Linked DNA regions of Homo sapiens: all the other regions are linked to region 2. Evidence: fine-mapped expression QTL. A gene starts in region 2. Each other region holds a variant in brackets. All regions are shown on one strand. Distances are from middle to middle.

Region 1 (5,000 bases), 140 kb before region 2:
TGGTGGTGGCACCACTGCAGTGAGAAGCCAATGGAGGGGTCCCCCGAGAACAGAGGACAGGCCTCTAGGTCCCTGGTCCAGCTGCCTCCCTCACCCAGGGGGCCTCTTCCAGGCCCATACTTGGAGCTTCTGCATTTGCCACAAAGGGGTAGGGTAGGTTTTTCTATCTTTGAGACCCATTTGAAATAAGAGGAAGATAAGGCTATTCAGCTCCTCGTTATTTGGATATTTCTGGGCCCCTGTCCTTGATGTCACAGAGCCCAGTGTGAGTCCAGAGTGTGGAGACAGTGCCTGGGTGACCTTGGTGTCCCAGGGCCTCGGTACAGTCCTCGGAACGCCTCAGCGCTGGCGTTCAGGACACGTGGGACGCAGGCAGGGAAGGGTGAATGAGCGCATGCGTGCCTGAATGAACCAGGACATGGACAAATGGGCAAACGAGCGAATGAAGGAGGATGGAATGGGTGGGAGAATGAACGAACGACACCAGGCTCCCAGTACACACTCAGCACCCACCTTTTTCCAGTCCCGCCCTTCTCTCTCATCTCACCTCCTGCCCGTAGCATCACCAAAGATCTTAGGGGGTTTACCTCCTGGTCTCTGCTGCTGCTCGCTGAGCCTGGCTCCCCATCTTCCCTCCAAGGAGTCCTTCCTTGTCCTTAGAGACTCCATTGAAACATCTCCCCAACAGGGAATTTTCTCCTGCAACCCTTCCCTGAGAAGGGTCTGTTCCTCTGTCCTTCTGCCCCACCTCGCCCCTCGCTGATGCTCTGTTTAGGGCTGGCTGGGTCTCCCCCTGCTGATGCCCGGGTTAGCCCAGTCTCCTGCTGCTCTGCTGGGGTCCTCAGGGAAGGGCCTCCACCCCGTGGTCACAGTGGGGCCTGGCTGGTTGCTGACTGCACTGACCTCCAATCGCCAGTCTGTGTCACCCCTGCTGGGTTCCCATCAGTGGGTCTTCCATGGCCTGGGTGGTCAGAAAGTGATGTCTGGGTGGCTGCAGCCAGGACAGAGGAGTGACAGAAGTGGTCCAGTGGCCCCTCCTCATCCTGGCTTTAACAAAAGCGTGGTGGTTTGTGGTGTTTCCTGGAAATCGGATTTGCTGACCCTGGCATCAGCTGTGAAAGCCATGTGACAGCCCCATGCCTCAGTTTCCTTGTGTGTAATACAGGTGCCAACATCCTTCTTTCTAACCTGAGATGCAGGGGATGGTTGGAGAACCTTCTGGAAAAAAAAAAAAAAACCCTGCATGTTTCTACCAGACTCAGCTCTTGTTTTCCTCACAGGCTTTTCATGAGGTCCTGGAGAGGCAGAGGCTGATGCAGTGTGACCTGGAGGAAGAGGAGAATGTCAGAGCCACCGAGGCTGTGGTTGCACTCTGCCAGGTACATGGCCTCTGTGGGGACCAGCAGAGAAGCCCCAGGGTCTGTGTGTGTGCGAGAACCTCACATCCTCCTGGCTGGGGACCCCAGAGGTGGTTCAGGTCCAACCCCGCACTCATTGGCCGGTGATCCACGCAGGCTGTGTCCCCTCCATGCGATCCTCCTTGCCCACATCAGAAACCGAGGCAGTTGGCCTTGGTCCTCTCTGAGGCACCGTCCATTTTTGGGGTGCTGAGGATTCTTATCTCCACACATCCCTGTCAGCAAAGCTCTTTGGAAATCCGTTCTCCCCAGGTGAGAAATAGGCCCAGGGTTTCTGGGTGTCATCAGTGTAAAGTGGTGATGAAGAAGGGGTTCTGGGCTGAAATGGGGACGTCAGAGATCACATGCCACACCACCTCTTTCCCCTGTGCAACCGTGTGCAGGTCTGGGGTGGGGAGGTGAAGCTGGCCATGCTTGCCCTGCAGGGTGACTTTCAGAGAGCAGGAGAGGGCACCTGAGCCCTCTTTAGGGGCAGGAGTCACAGGATGCCATGCTGAGCCAGACAGAGCCCCTGCCTCAGGCAGCATCCTCAGTTGTTGGAAAGACAGGAGTGTGGACACCTGGCTATGAAGGAATCAACCAGTGGGTGTTGGGCAGCACTGGGAGGAGGAGAGGGCCTGGGTCTGTGTCCTGGCTCCCCGCTTCCTCACTGCGTGACCACAGGAGCATCACTTGGCCTCTAGCCCTCAGTTTCCCCATCTGTGAAATGGGGACAGTCATAATTCTTCTTCATGGTGTGC[T/C]AGGAGGACTGTGTTTGGGGACCCGAGACAGCAGCTGGCACTCGGAACACCCCAGGGCACGTTGTCTCCAGTGACAGCTTCCCTGCTTCTGAGTGCAGAGGAGAGGCAAGGGGCTCCTGGGTGAAGGTGACGTCAAGGACAGCAGCCTGTAGGAGGCATTGCTGAGCCAAGCATTGGATGAGACCAGGCCCAAGTGGACAAGGAGTCAGCGGGCATCCCCATCAGGGAGAAGCTCATGCAGTGGTGGGAAGTGCAACTCCTCACCCGGATGGGAGCTGCACTGGGGTCAGTCATGTCTCTGTTAACCTGCTAGGGCTGCCGTGGTGAATACCACTGACTGGTGGGTTAAACAACAGAAAAGCGTTCTCTCAAGGTTCTGGAGGCTGAAGCCCGAGATCACGGTGCCAACAGGATTGACTTCTGGTGAGGCCTCTCTTCCGGGCTTGCAGACAGCTGCCTTCCCGTTGCCTCCTCACACGGTTATTTCTCTGTGCTTGGAAGACTGAAGGGCAGGGGAGAGAATGAAAGAGAGGGCTCTGGTCTCTCCCTTTTCTTATAAGGACACCAGTTCTATGGGATTAGGGCCCCACCCTGATGACCTCATCTAACCTTAATTACCTCCTTAAAGGCCCTGTCTCCAAATACAGCCACATGGGATATTGGAGGTTAGAGCTTCAACATAAGAATTTGATTACTTAATTACCTCCAAATACAGTCACATGGGATATTGGAGGTTAGGGCTTCAACCTAAGAATTTTGGAGGGAGACACAATTTAGTCCAAACAGTGTCCTTCAAAACGTCATGTCCATCTGGAACCTCGGAATGTGGCCACACTTGGAAATAAGGGCTTTGCAGATGTAATTGGTTAGATCGCACAGTTGGTTAGGTCCTACTGGATTCGGGTGGGCCCTAATTCTAATGGCTGGTGTCCTTATAAGAAGGCCATGAGAAGACATAGAGACACAGGGAAGGAGGCTGTTTGAAGACAGAAGGAGGGACTGGAGTGATGCAGCCACAAGCCGAGGAACACCTGCAGCCACCAAAAGCCAGAAGAGCCCAGGAAGGGCCCCTCCCAGAGCCTTTGGAGGGGGCGAGGCTCTGCCAACACCTTGGTTTCATACTAATGCCCTCCGGAACGGTGAGAGAATAAACTTCGTTGTCTTAATGCACCCAGTTTGCGGCGCTTTGTCATGGCAGCCACAGGAAACTAAACGGAAGGCGATCTTTGTTCAGGGCTAGCTCCTATCTTAAGTGCCTCTTGAGTATTTGATTATTTAATTCTCATGAGATTCATGAGGAAGACACTGCATTTTCCTTCCTTCCCAGATGAGGAGTGAAGAAGTGTTTTCTCCAGAAATGGGTAGGATGGGGCTCAATTTGTCAAAGCCCTGGGGCCCACAGACAGGAAAGGAACAACTTTGTCCCCAGAGGAGTCAAGACTCACATCCCTGGCTGGGCATGGGGAAACCAAGTTCTAATCTTCCTCTGAGTGCTAACATGCTGTGTGACCTTGGCTGGTTACATAACCTGTCTGTGCTGGCCCATGTATCTTGCCCAGGTTTTACACAGCTAGCAAGCGGGGAAGGTGAGATTTAAAATAAAGGCTTTCTAATGTTAGTGCTGATGTGCTCACCCCAACCATGCTGCTCAGTGTTGACGGCTGTTGTGAAACCTCGCTTCTTGTGTTTTTAGTTTAAAAGTATGTAAACAAGAGACCACAGTAAAGGGGATGCAGCACAGAGCAATTTATTGCAAAGGAGAAAGAATGTTCTGAAAGTTAGGTGCAGAATAGACAGGATGCCCTGGGAGATGATTCAGAGCAGATGAGACAGCCTTGACTTACCGGGGAAACTCCCTTTCTGGGGAGTCTTATGTGATTATTCATAAGGGCGTGGGAAGAAGCATTATTAGTAAGCATGTTGTGGAGGGCGGTGGGGGCGGGTCCTCTGAGTGCCCAGGCACAGTAGCTGTACACACTTGTTCATACGTCACATGTCTCATTAGCATCTTAAGTCTCCGTCCAAAGGTGTGTTTTTTACTATTATAATGGCGCAGAGGGTCAGTCTGAGGACAGATAAAATCAAAGTGCACCTGCCGACTGCAGGAGACGTTGCCTACTGCAGATAACTGCTTGAAAGAGCCAGACTACAGTGTAAATGCTGAGGCTTACTGTGTTGATGGTTTGGTCGCCGCATCCCAAGGACATGGTCACTTCCTTGACTACCTATCCTGCCTTACGTGTGGGCTGTGGAGCATAATGGTGAAGCCCAGGCTCTGGAGCCAGACATCTGGGGTTCAAATTCCCAGCCGGGCCACTTATTTCCCCTGCCGGAGGTGAGCCCAGGTGGCCCAGAGGCTATGGGCGGCGGGGGTGGTTTCAGCAGCATTCTCCTCCTCACCCCCTATGGTAGCTTATTGGATTCTCACCCATCCTCTCTAAAGCAGTTCTCAAACCTTGCTGTGCATCAGAATGTCATCAAGATTAAGGAAATTGAGGTACAGGTTAGATCACTTGCTCACAATTACACAACCAGGCTGACAGCCTGAGTAAAACCCTATCAATGATTGCTGCAAAGGGTAAGCCAAGCAGTATATAAATGTAAACCCAGAACATCTGAGACGGGTCTCAGTTCATTTAGAAAGTTTATTTTGCCAAGGTTGAGGCTGCGCGAGCCTGGGACACAGCCTCAGGAGGGCGCGTCCTGACGACACGCGCCCAAGGGGGTCCGGACACAGCGTGGTTTTATACATTTTAGGGAGACAGGAGACATCAATCGGTACATGTAAGAAGTACATTGGTTCGGTCAGGAAAGGTGGGACAACTTGAAGCAAAGACAGGAA
Region 2 (5,346 bases):
CTCTGCCGGCAGAAAGTAAAACCCTCCCTCCGTGGAGATCGCGAGCCCCTGAGTTCCACAGTCGCGAAGCTCGAGTGCTTTCGGAGCCCCGGGAGCGCCAGAGGCGCTGCCTTTTGTCCGGTGCCTGAGAAGCCATGGAGAAAGGCAGAGGGGACCACAGGGAGAAGAGGAAGGAGTAGGGGAGAGGAACGGGAGAGGTGAAGCGACCAGCGTCCCCAAGGGTCAGGGCGCAGCTGCGGGGCTGGCCCAGGCTGCGCCCTGGGGGAGATGCTGGCGTTGGTGACATTGACCGCAGTTCCAGAGGAACTCTCCTTGGGACAGCTACGGGCCGTGCACAAAGCGCCCTCGCCTCCCTAGTACTCCACCACGCTTTGAGGAAGGCCGGAAGAAGACGGCCACCCCCATCTGACAGATGGAGAAGCTGAGGCCCAAGAGAGCAAAGCGCCTTGGCTGGAAACCCGGATTCCCTGGTGCTGGTCCCGCTTCTCGGCCCGCGGCCCAGAAGCCTCCCCATCGGGCTCGGGAGTTTGGATCCCAAGAGAGGTCGGACCACCAGGGAAGGTAGTGGACAGGGGGAGATACAGAAGGGGTGGGGGAAGAGGAAGCTGGACTCTCGCACCATCTCCCTTTCTGATCACCCCACCACCACACACACATACACACACACACACACACACACACACACACACACACACCCTTGCTGTTGGACCTCTCCCTCGCGAGGCTCCGGCTTCAGGACCACGGAGAGCTCTGGAGCAACAGCCCGCCCGCGAAGGGATGGGGCCCGAAGAGGCCCACCACCGTGTTTACCAGTTCCCTGCTCCTATTCCTCCAGGAAGCCCTCCCAGATATCTGCCCCGATCAAGCTCTGCTTCCCTCCAGGCTCACTTTGGGTCACTCATAGCATTTAAGAGGGGAAGGTTTAATTAAAATGATAATGATTGTAATAAAAGTCAACAACAAACATTTATTGAATGCTCACTACCGACCGGCATTAACTGATTTAATTCTCACAATGAATCCGTCGCTCACCCTAGCCTGGGAACTTCTGGAGGGTGGGGCCAGGTTGCTGAGCCAGGGACCTAGCGCCTACCCTGGGCCTGGCACCTAGCAGTTCTCCGGCATCCAGGTCTGGACCAATTCGAAAGCTCCCCAGCCCTCGGATGCTCCAACTTCCGTTTTTCTGGCACCTGACCCTGGCTCTCGTCGGTCCATCCAAAGGCTACGCCGTCCATCCGCCCTTCTTCCCCCAGTTTCCTGGTGACCCCCAGCTCAAGAGAGAATACCCGCAGGGCCCAAGCCCTAGCGTTCCCTCTCCCTGATCCTCCCGGCCCCATGCTCAGGTCCGGGAGGCCAGAGACCCCAGTTCAAATCCCAGCTCTACCTCCACCTTGCTCTGTGAAGCAGGCACATCGGTGTGTGCTGTGGAGCTCAGGAGTGCCCCTTGAATCTACTGGCGCTTGAGGGTAGGGGTTTACGGCTCCAACTGCCCGACGAACTAAATCCTTAACCAAATCCTTCCCCCCAGCAAGCATGAGGGGAGCGCTCGGAAAAAAAGCTCCTTCCAGCTTTAAGCTGTGTGGCCGCAGGCGACTCGCGGAACCTCTCCCGGGGCCCGGCACACAGTAGGTGCTCTATAATTACTACCGACTGAGTGGATGGATGAATGGACCAACACGGAACGGAGCTCCAGTTCTTTTCACAAAACAGAATGAGGGGCCTGGGTTAGATTCATCCCAGAGGTTCCTTCGCGTTTAAGCGTCCATGCGGTAGCTTTAGCCAACTTCCCCTCTCAGAACCTCTCTCCCTTTCTGTAGAAGAGGAGCCGGGACTGGACCCGGGCGATCCCTTCCGAGTCTCACGGACCACGCCGGCCAGCCCCGACCGAGTCGCCCCAGCTCTGGGAACCTCTTGCATGATGAGGTGGGGGAGGGGCCGCGCCGTGGCTCTCCCCAGCCTGGCGGCCGCTGCCCCAACACCGGGGCCCGGGCATGGCCCTCGGGCGCCCCATGCCCTGGGTCCTCCCGGGGCCCGCCCCCCTCGTCTGGCCCGCGCGCGCCCCGAGGGTACCTGGCCATTGTCCCGGCCGAGGGGCAGGTCGCGGGGCGCGGGGCGGCGGATGCGCAGCGTCGGCGGCCGCTCGTCGCGCTCTCCGGGAGAGCTGACCGCGGAGCCCGAGGGCTCGCTCACGTCGCTGGCCGTGTCCTCGCTGCCTCCCGGCCCTGGCAGCCCGACCGCGTCGGGCCGGCCAGCGCTGCGCGGCGTGCGCGCCGAGCCGCGGCGGCCCACACTGTAGGCGTCGAAGTCGATGGTCTTGTTCTCGTAGGCGCCCTCCACCGCGGCGAACATGCCGCCGTACTTCTGGCGCGGGGTCTGCGCCGCGCTGCCCGGCCGCGCCAGGTACACGGGCAGGTCGTCCTCGGTGTTCCACGCGCGCCGCCGGTCCGCCATACCCGTCCAAGGCCGGCCACCCACCGCGCTCCCGCCTGCCCGCCCGCGGCCCTGGGCACCGCCGTGCGCCGCGCTCCGCGCCTCGGTGCGGGCCTGCGGCGGCCCGGGCGCGACTGCGGCCCAGGGAGGGGAGGGGCGGGGCGTGGCGCGCGCCGGGGCGGGGCCGGGGCGGGGCCTCTGGGCGGCTGCGGGCTAGCGGCGCGGCCAGCTACAAAGGACCAGGAGGCGGGGATCGCGGCTGGGGCGGGGAGGGACGGTGACGCTCCCGAGCCGCAGCGCGGAGGGCGGGCCGCGGCACCGCAGTGCCCTCGCCGCACCCCCCACTCTCCGCCCCCAGGCGGAGCGCAGGGCGCGAGGAGAGCGCGGGGCAGGAGCCGTGTGCGTACACTCGCGCGCCCACACGCTCTGGAGGCACACGCGGGTTCATACCTGCACACCAGACAATTACGCCAAACACATGAGAGATGCACAGACATGCTGGCACACACACGAGAGTCAATCACACATGCTCTCCAGAGATACACAGGGGCTCGATCATGCACACCATACTCAATGTTGCACACACATACACATATATGCTTGTGCACATTCCGAGTTCATTACAAACACACAACAGAAATCCTCATTGTCTCACAACCCCACTCACACACAGTATCACACCAAGATTAATTGCACAACTGGAGAGGCACATGCGTTGGACACACCGTTCATTCCGTCAGTTTTATTTTGCTGAGCGCCCACTAGTGCCTAGCACTGTTGTAGGAGCTGGGAACAGAGCCATGGACAAAAGAGACCAAGTGCCTGCCCTCCAGGAGCTGACCTGCTAAGGAGGGGAATTGGATACAAAAGCACCCATATGGTGGGCCAAGAGGTGGTAAGGGCCAGGAAAGGTGGTGCAGCAGCCAAGAGGGACATGCTAGAGGCACACTCCGACAGACACATAAGAGAAGCACATTCTTGCATGAGAATCAGCGACACACACATACACGTGCACGCCAATGACACCACACAACACACCAATATCAAAGGCAAGCTCAGGGCGATTCCACACATGTGCATCATAAACTGGCAACAGGATGCCCACACACAAGTCCACACCAGTAATAAAGGAAGTCAAAAGCTTAAATAAAAACGCTCCAGAGAAAGACACACAGAGACAGAGATGACCACACACACACAGCTGGCAGTCAACCAGACAGACAGATATTCCCTCATTCGAGGGGCACAGTCCACTTTTGTTGCTCCTGGAGCTTGCAGTCTGGGCGTTCTGGGGTTTCTCTGTCGTGGAGGTCGCTCTGCTGGGGCTCTCCTCTAAGGCCAGGCACCACCTGCCTCCTATAGACACCTTCCCTTATTTCTCCACGATTATCAGGCAGAGGATCCTGCAAGTCCCTGGGGACCCTACAGTCCCAGCTGCACTTCCTGGAGAGGCAGAATCGCCAGCTGCCGACCCCCTCCTCGAGCCAGTCTAGACAAGCAAAGTCAGGACTGGGTGGGGACTGCAGAGGGGAGCATCAGTGCTTCTTGCAATGTCCCCCCACCCATAGCCTTCCATGCTGGGAGCTGTCCCTTCAACCCCGGGCCCTGCCAGCTGCAAGCCAGAGCTCCCGCAGCGTGACCAAGCTCCAGGAATACCAGACAGACAGATGGATTCATGTTCTTGTTTTATGACTCTTGGGCCCCATGGACTGAGGATCCTGGGGCCGTCGGATCCGTGGCCTCAGCTGACACCTCCCTGAAGCTACTGTCTTTCAACCCTGCAACAAGGGGTCTGTGCAGCAGGTAGGTATTTTTACCGGCCCCCTCTTGGAAGAGGAAACAGGAGGGGAGATGTGAAATGGCTCCCTCAGGGCCTCAATCTCAAGGAGGTTCAGCCAGGCCTAGAGCGTGGGCTCATCCACTCGGTGGGCATTTAGCAAGTTATTTTTCTGTGCTTGAGAGAGAGGCTAGTGTGGGGACACAGATGAGTATTTCTAAGTCTCTGTCTTCAACAAGTGTTTACTCTCATGGGGGAGAGAGTGCTGAATGCGAGAACAGAAAGTTCCACACACAGCCTCCATCTACCTTCCACCCACCGCAGCTGCATCCTGGCTCCTCTCTCCTTGTGTCCCTGGGTCCACTGTGCAGATTTGCCACAGACACTCCTCTTGAGGCCCATCAGCCTCCAGGCTATCTTGCAAGTGTTTTCGATTTTTCAATGAAAATTTTTCTCTGTCCTGTGAAATACTATTCCCAGCCCATTCCAGGCAAGAACAATTCATGTCGAAAACCACATAGAAATTTCTTCTAAAACCCCACAAATGTTCAGGGTGACATAACCCAGAGAAATATCAGAAAACTCAAAAGTCTGAGTTAGGTGGAACTTTGGAGGCCAGGCCTCCTACTGCATGCTTGAATCTGCTCTCAACATCTTGAGGACACAGTCTCTCAGGCTTTGTTGGTGGTGATGGAAATCTTACTGCTTCTAAAGAAAACCCTTTCCATTGTGAGAAAGGGCTGGGCAGTTGCCAAGACTAGAGGGAGTGACGCAAGGAAGGAGCTGAGAAAGTGCTGTCTTTATGCAGAAGCAGGAAAGGATCTTCATAGCTTCTGCTTATAGAAAGTTTACTACGTGCCCGGACCATGGTAAGCACCTAACAGATAGTAACTCTTTTATGCCTCGCAGCAACCTTGAAACTGCCATTTTAGCCTCATTTTACAGATGAGAAAACTGAGGTTCAGAGACATAAATAACCTGTCCAGGGTCACAGCTGGCAAGTAAGACTTCGAGGTTTAAACAGAGTAGTCTGGTGCCAGAGTCCACATCGAAACAACTACCCTTTCCTCTCCCCAAGAGCCTGACTGAGGTGGTCCCACTGGGAGATAAGAGATAAAGGGACCTAGTTTAGGCAGAAG
Region 3 (5,000 bases), 180 kb before region 2:
TTGGGCTCAGGTGATCCTCCCGCCTCAGCCTCCCAAGTAGCTGGGACTACAGGCTTGCACCACCATGCCTGGCTAATTTTTTTTTTTTTTCTATTTTCTGTAGAGTTAGAGTTTTGCCATGTTGCCCAGGCTGGTCTCAAACTCCTGGGCTCAAGCAGTCTTCCTGCTTTCACCTCCCAAAGTGCCAAGATCACAGGTGTGAGCCACCACATCTGGCCTTGGTTTTTTCATTTGCTTAGATTCTGTGTACTTATCATTCATTTAACTCTCCCCCACATATGTGCGTTTGTGTTCAAGACATTTGAATGCATTAGATATTTGATCCATTTTATCTTCTTGAGAAAAATATCTCTCCCAGAAACATTCTGACAAGCTCTAGTTTGAGCTGGTTATTCTCTAGACAGCTCTCTAAAGTGTGGACCAGACCAGCAGCATCAATATCTTGGGGAGCTTGATAGAAATGCATATTCTTGGGCTCTACCCCAGACTCACTGAAGGAGAATCTCTAGGGATGAGTCCAGCAAGCTGTGTTTAATAAGCCCTCCTGGTGATTTACATGTTCTTAAAGTTTGAGAAGCAGCTACTCATCATGCTGGGAGTTTCTCACGTCTCTTCTGGGTTGAATCCTGTTTCAGGGATTCCCTGGCACTCCCCTTTTGTTAGGTAATTTCATTGCATGCCTGGAGCACATCCTTCAGTAGCTTTTTCAAAAAGGGATGGATGCAACTCTTTTGAGAACTTCTATGTCTGAAAATATATTCTTCTATCTTTATACTTAATTTGGTAAGAATAATTAGATTGGGAATAATTTTCCTCCAGAATTTCGAAGGCATTTTTCCATTGTCTTTTTTTTTTTTTTTTTTTTTGAGATAGAGTCTTGCTCTGTCACCCAGGCTGGAGTGCAGTAGTGCAATCTCGGCTCACTGCAACCTCCACTTCCTGGGTTCAAGCAATTCTTCTGCCTCAGCCTCCTGAGTAGCTGGGACTACAGGCATGCGCCACCATGCCCAGCTAATTTTTGTATTTTTAGTAGAGATGGGGTTTCACCATGTTGGCCAGTCTGGTCTCGAACTCCTGAGCTCGTGATCCACCTGCCTCGGCCTCCCAGAGTGCTGGGATTACAGGCGTGAGCTACTGTACCCGGCCTCCATTGTCTTCTAGCTGTTGTAGAACCAAACTGGGTTCCACTCACCTGGCACAGTAAGACCAGATAGCGACACTGAGGTTTTATAGTGGTAAAAAGGGAGGTGTTTATTCACAGTGCACCAAGCCAGGAGGACTAGGCAGCTCATGCTCAAATCCTGACTGCCCTGATGACTTCCAGGTGAGGTTTTTAAAGGTAGAGGTAAATTTCAGGAAAGCAGAAGTTACAGGCAAAATTGTAAATCAATACATGAAGGTGACAACTGGTTTTGGCCTAAAAGGGCCAGACATCTTGAAGTGGAGGCTTGCAGGTCAGAGGTAGATTCAAAGATTTTCTGATTTGCAATTTTGTGAAGGAAGAGAAGCTTTGTTTTAAAATGTAGGTTCGGCAGAAAAGAACCTTAGCTCAGGCTCCTGGTCATGACTTCCTCTGGGCTCCCCAGGAAGAGCTTTAGAACAAAGAATGGTGCTCAGAGTTCAGATCTCAGATAAGGGGCAGCTGAGGACCTCAGCCATGGATCCTCAGAGTGGATCCATTGGATGGGGGTCCAGGTTTCTGAAAAACAACTCAGGGACATATGTTAAGATGTTATCTTTAGTTTCTGCAGGGAAACCAAACATCTCCTGACTCTAACTTCCTTGGCTATTGTTTTAGGCGACTATTACCTTCTTGCTTATCAAGTTGTTGATAATTTCCCTTGAAGAAAGTCAGGATTTTCCTTTATTTCCAGGCTTAGGGCAAGGGATTTGCAGGCCCTTAAAAAGGGGGGACTCTGCTTCATCTCATAATTTCCATGGTTGCTGTTGAGAAAACTGATTCTATTCTGATCCTTGATACCTTACACGAAACCTCTTTTCCTTTTGTTCCTCTGTAGAATCTTAAAGAACCTTTACCTTTGCTCCTAGTAAATGAAATTGCACCACGATGGTGTTGGTGAAAGTCATTTGTCATCCACGGTGCCAGGCATTTGGAACGTCCTTTTGATCGAGAATCATTTTCTTGATTTCTTTGATGATTCTTTTCCTTTTATACGTTTTCTTCTTCCAAGAACTCCTATCACTTTTTTAGGTTGAATTGGGCTTCCAATCTTAGTCTTTCTCTCTCACTTCGATTCTCTTTGTCTTTTTTACATTATCTTTGGAGAGATGTTTCTCAACTTTATACTTGTATTGAGTTTTTCATATTTTCAATTTTGAAGAGTCATTTTTTTGTTCTGAGAATGTTCTATCCTGTCCTTATTTTATGAATGGAATACCTTCTCTGATCTCTCTGATAATATTTTAGTTGTTTATTTGTTTAAAGTTTTTTTTCCCTGTGTAGTGCGTTCCCTGCTTGCTTTTTCCTTTTGTTTGTTTTGGATTTTATCTTTCATATTAGAGTCTGTCCTCAAATGGCTAGTGACCCTCTAGACATTTTCAAGTGATGCTGATGCTCCCTCTGTGGGATATATATATTTTTTCCTCAATGTCTTTACTGTAGGACTATCTGACTGGGTTCTTCTTTGCAG[G/A]ACCCTTGTACTGGTCTGCTATGGTTGGTAAACAACCCCCCAAATCTCTGGCTTCATCATCCACCCCAAGACCCACGACAGACTGCTGCATCTACACAGGTTTCTCTCTATGCCCAGCATGGGCCTGCCTCCAAGGCCTTTGCACTTGCTATTCTGTCTCTAGAATGCTCCTCCCTGAGATATCTCAATGGCTCATGGCCTCACTTCTTTTAAGTTCCTTCTCAAATGCCGCTTTGTCCAAGAGACTTTGTCTCCCATCATCCTTCATTCCCCCACCCTCCACTGTTACTCTAGGACATGATTGTCCCTGAATTGCTATGTATTTTTTCATTTGTTTGCCTCTTTCTTCTCTCACTGCAATGTCAATGCCACAAAAGCAGAGGCTGTGTATTTTGTTCGTTACTCTATTCCCAGTACCTAGAACAAGGCCTGACACAAAGCAGATGCTCGATAATAGTAGCTGATTAACTCAGTGACAAACTGGTGATGTTTCTTTAGTGCAAAGATTATATTCATGAGCAGGTAGTGATTAAAGGGGAAGTTGAGAAGTGTCTGGGATAACAGAGTTTTAAATATAGTCTACTCTCCTTATTCATGGTAGTTATGTTCTGTAAACTCACTGAGAACACAGCATTAGCGAACACTGAACCGTTGTTCCTGGGGGGAAAACAGGGTTAGGTTCCTACAAGCCTCTGGTCACAACATTTCCATTAACCAGTCAATACATAGCATAGTTTTATGTATGTTTCTGTTTAAAGATATCTTATTTAATAGATATTTTTAATTTATTAACATTGGACTCACAGACATCAGCTCTGTAACTCACACCTGAATGAAGCTTCTGTAACACACCCATTTCTCCAGAGGGCATGTCATAGTTTTCTTGTGTTTCGGGAGACTAGACAGCACTTCTGCACTGTGTTTGGTGGTTATTTTAAACAGTAAAGTCACCGAGAAAAAGCACAGAAATGCAAAAACTGTGCTACTAGAGTATGAAAAGGATGTTTGTTTACAGCATGAGAGCAGAGACAAGAAGGCAGAGTGCTACTTTGTTCCATCTCAACTGAGCACGTGCATGCTGGGCAACTCAGATTGTTCATGCTCTGCATGTATTTGTGAATAACTGTAAAAGCGCCATGAGCATTGGTTTGGGGGTTCTAAATAAATATTAGCAAGTACAGGAATTGGCAAATACAGAATCCATAAATAATGAGCATTCATTGTAGTTCAGAATAGAAACTACTCTATAACTTAAGGTCACCTAACATATTGTCTTAAAAACCATTCAATAGAATGATCAAGATCAACAGGAAAATTATATGCATGTGCCATTTCTCATGCTTAGTTGTTAAATCCAAAGAGCTCCCAGTCCAATGGGGTCCCCAACCTAGAAGAAAAATGGAACGAGCTTTGCTCTGCCTCTTGCCTCAAGTCCTGAGGGTGCACTGAAATGGGGCATCCTGGAGGCCTTAGGGGAACCGCTCAGGAAGGTGACCTGTGCAGTCTTGAAGGACATGTAGCGGACCCCACGTGGGGTGGGAGGCGTCACACACAGAAGACCAAGCTTGAGAAGCACAGAGGCGAGCAGAAGTGGCTGCTGGACTGGGGGAGTTGACTGGCAAAAGTCACGGTGGGGACCAGGCCGACTGACCTCAATGTTGTGTTTCTATCCACCCCCAACTCCTGACCTTCGGGTTTTAGAAAGACGACACTCAAAATCTGCTCAAGAATTTGGAGTCTAATGCGCAGACCCCCTCGGAAACTGGCTCCCCATCAAGGAGGAGGAAGAGAGAAGTGCAGATGTCGAAGGACAAGGAAGCTGTTGATGTAAGCTTGGTGTTGATGTTTGTTTGTGGAGGCACATGTGGGAGGTGGGGTATTCCCCCTGGAAGCCGGGTGTCATGTAGACAAGCCTCTGACAGATATAGTTTCCCAATGGGCTGCTTTTCTGAGGCATAATTTACATACAGTCAAATGCGCAGACTTTAGGTTTTACAGTTTGATGAGTTTTGACAATTGCATGCCCCTTAGAACAAATACCCCCCTGAGAATGTTTTCATCACCCAGCAAGTCCTCTAGTGCCCCTTTCTGGTCACTTCCCGCCCCCACACACTTCCAGAGGTGCCCATGCGTGGGATTTCCATTGATTGGTTCTGCAGTTCTGGAACCTTATGCAAATGGAATTGTGCTGTTCTGTGCCTGTGTTCCCTCCACAGAATGCCTTAAGATGTTTCCCTTTCGTTGTGTGTATCAATAATTCACCCATTTTTATTGCTCAGTGGCAGTCAACTGTGTGGATGTGCCACACTTTGTTGATTGCTCACTGTTTGTGTGTATTTCATTGGCAGA

Which allele goes with the higher level. Positions count from the first base shown, and alleles are read on the strand shown. Sizes are in standard deviations (SD) of each study's normalised expression. Not every link is listed here.
In carriers of allele A in region 3, the expression in liver of the gene that starts at base 2,568 in region 2 tends to be higher than with G alone (moderate effect, 0.44 SD a copy in GTEx).

Evidence for each region. PIP is the estimated chance that this variant, and not a neighbour inherited with it, causes the effect.
Region 1: its variant is the best candidate, but not a certain one, in a credible set for the expression of CRMP1 in fibroblasts (GTEx, PIP 0.55).
Region 3: its variant is the best candidate, but not a certain one, in a credible set for the expression of CRMP1 in liver (GTEx, PIP 0.71).

What each region holds. Positions count from the first base shown.
Region 1 is chr4:5,754,984-5,759,983 of GRCh38, forward strand. It overlaps EVC (EvC ciliary complex subunit 1), which reads left to right. Exons shown (of 21, transcript NM_153717.3): 11 at 1,281-1,379. Among named protein-coding and RNA genes, the nearest start is that of EVC, 46 kb to the left of the region's middle. RefSeq lists enhancers at 3,419-4,618, 4,287-4,336. The variant T/C (reference allele first, on the strand shown) is at 2,159.
Region 2 is chr4:5,890,519-5,895,864 of GRCh38, forward strand. It overlaps CRMP1 (collapsin response mediator protein 1), which reads right to left and starts at 2,568. Exons shown (of 14, transcript NM_001014809.3): 1 at 2,071-2,568. The coding sequence starts at 2,451. RefSeq lists enhancers at 1-429, 430-1,173.
Region 3 is chr4:5,714,896-5,719,895 of GRCh38, forward strand. It overlaps EVC (EvC ciliary complex subunit 1), which reads left to right. Exons shown (of 21, transcript NM_153717.3): 2 at 4,353-4,478. Among named protein-coding and RNA genes, the nearest start is that of EVC, 6.2 kb to the left of the region's middle. RefSeq lists a silencer at 4,529-4,658. The variant G/A (reference allele first, on the strand shown) is at 2,652.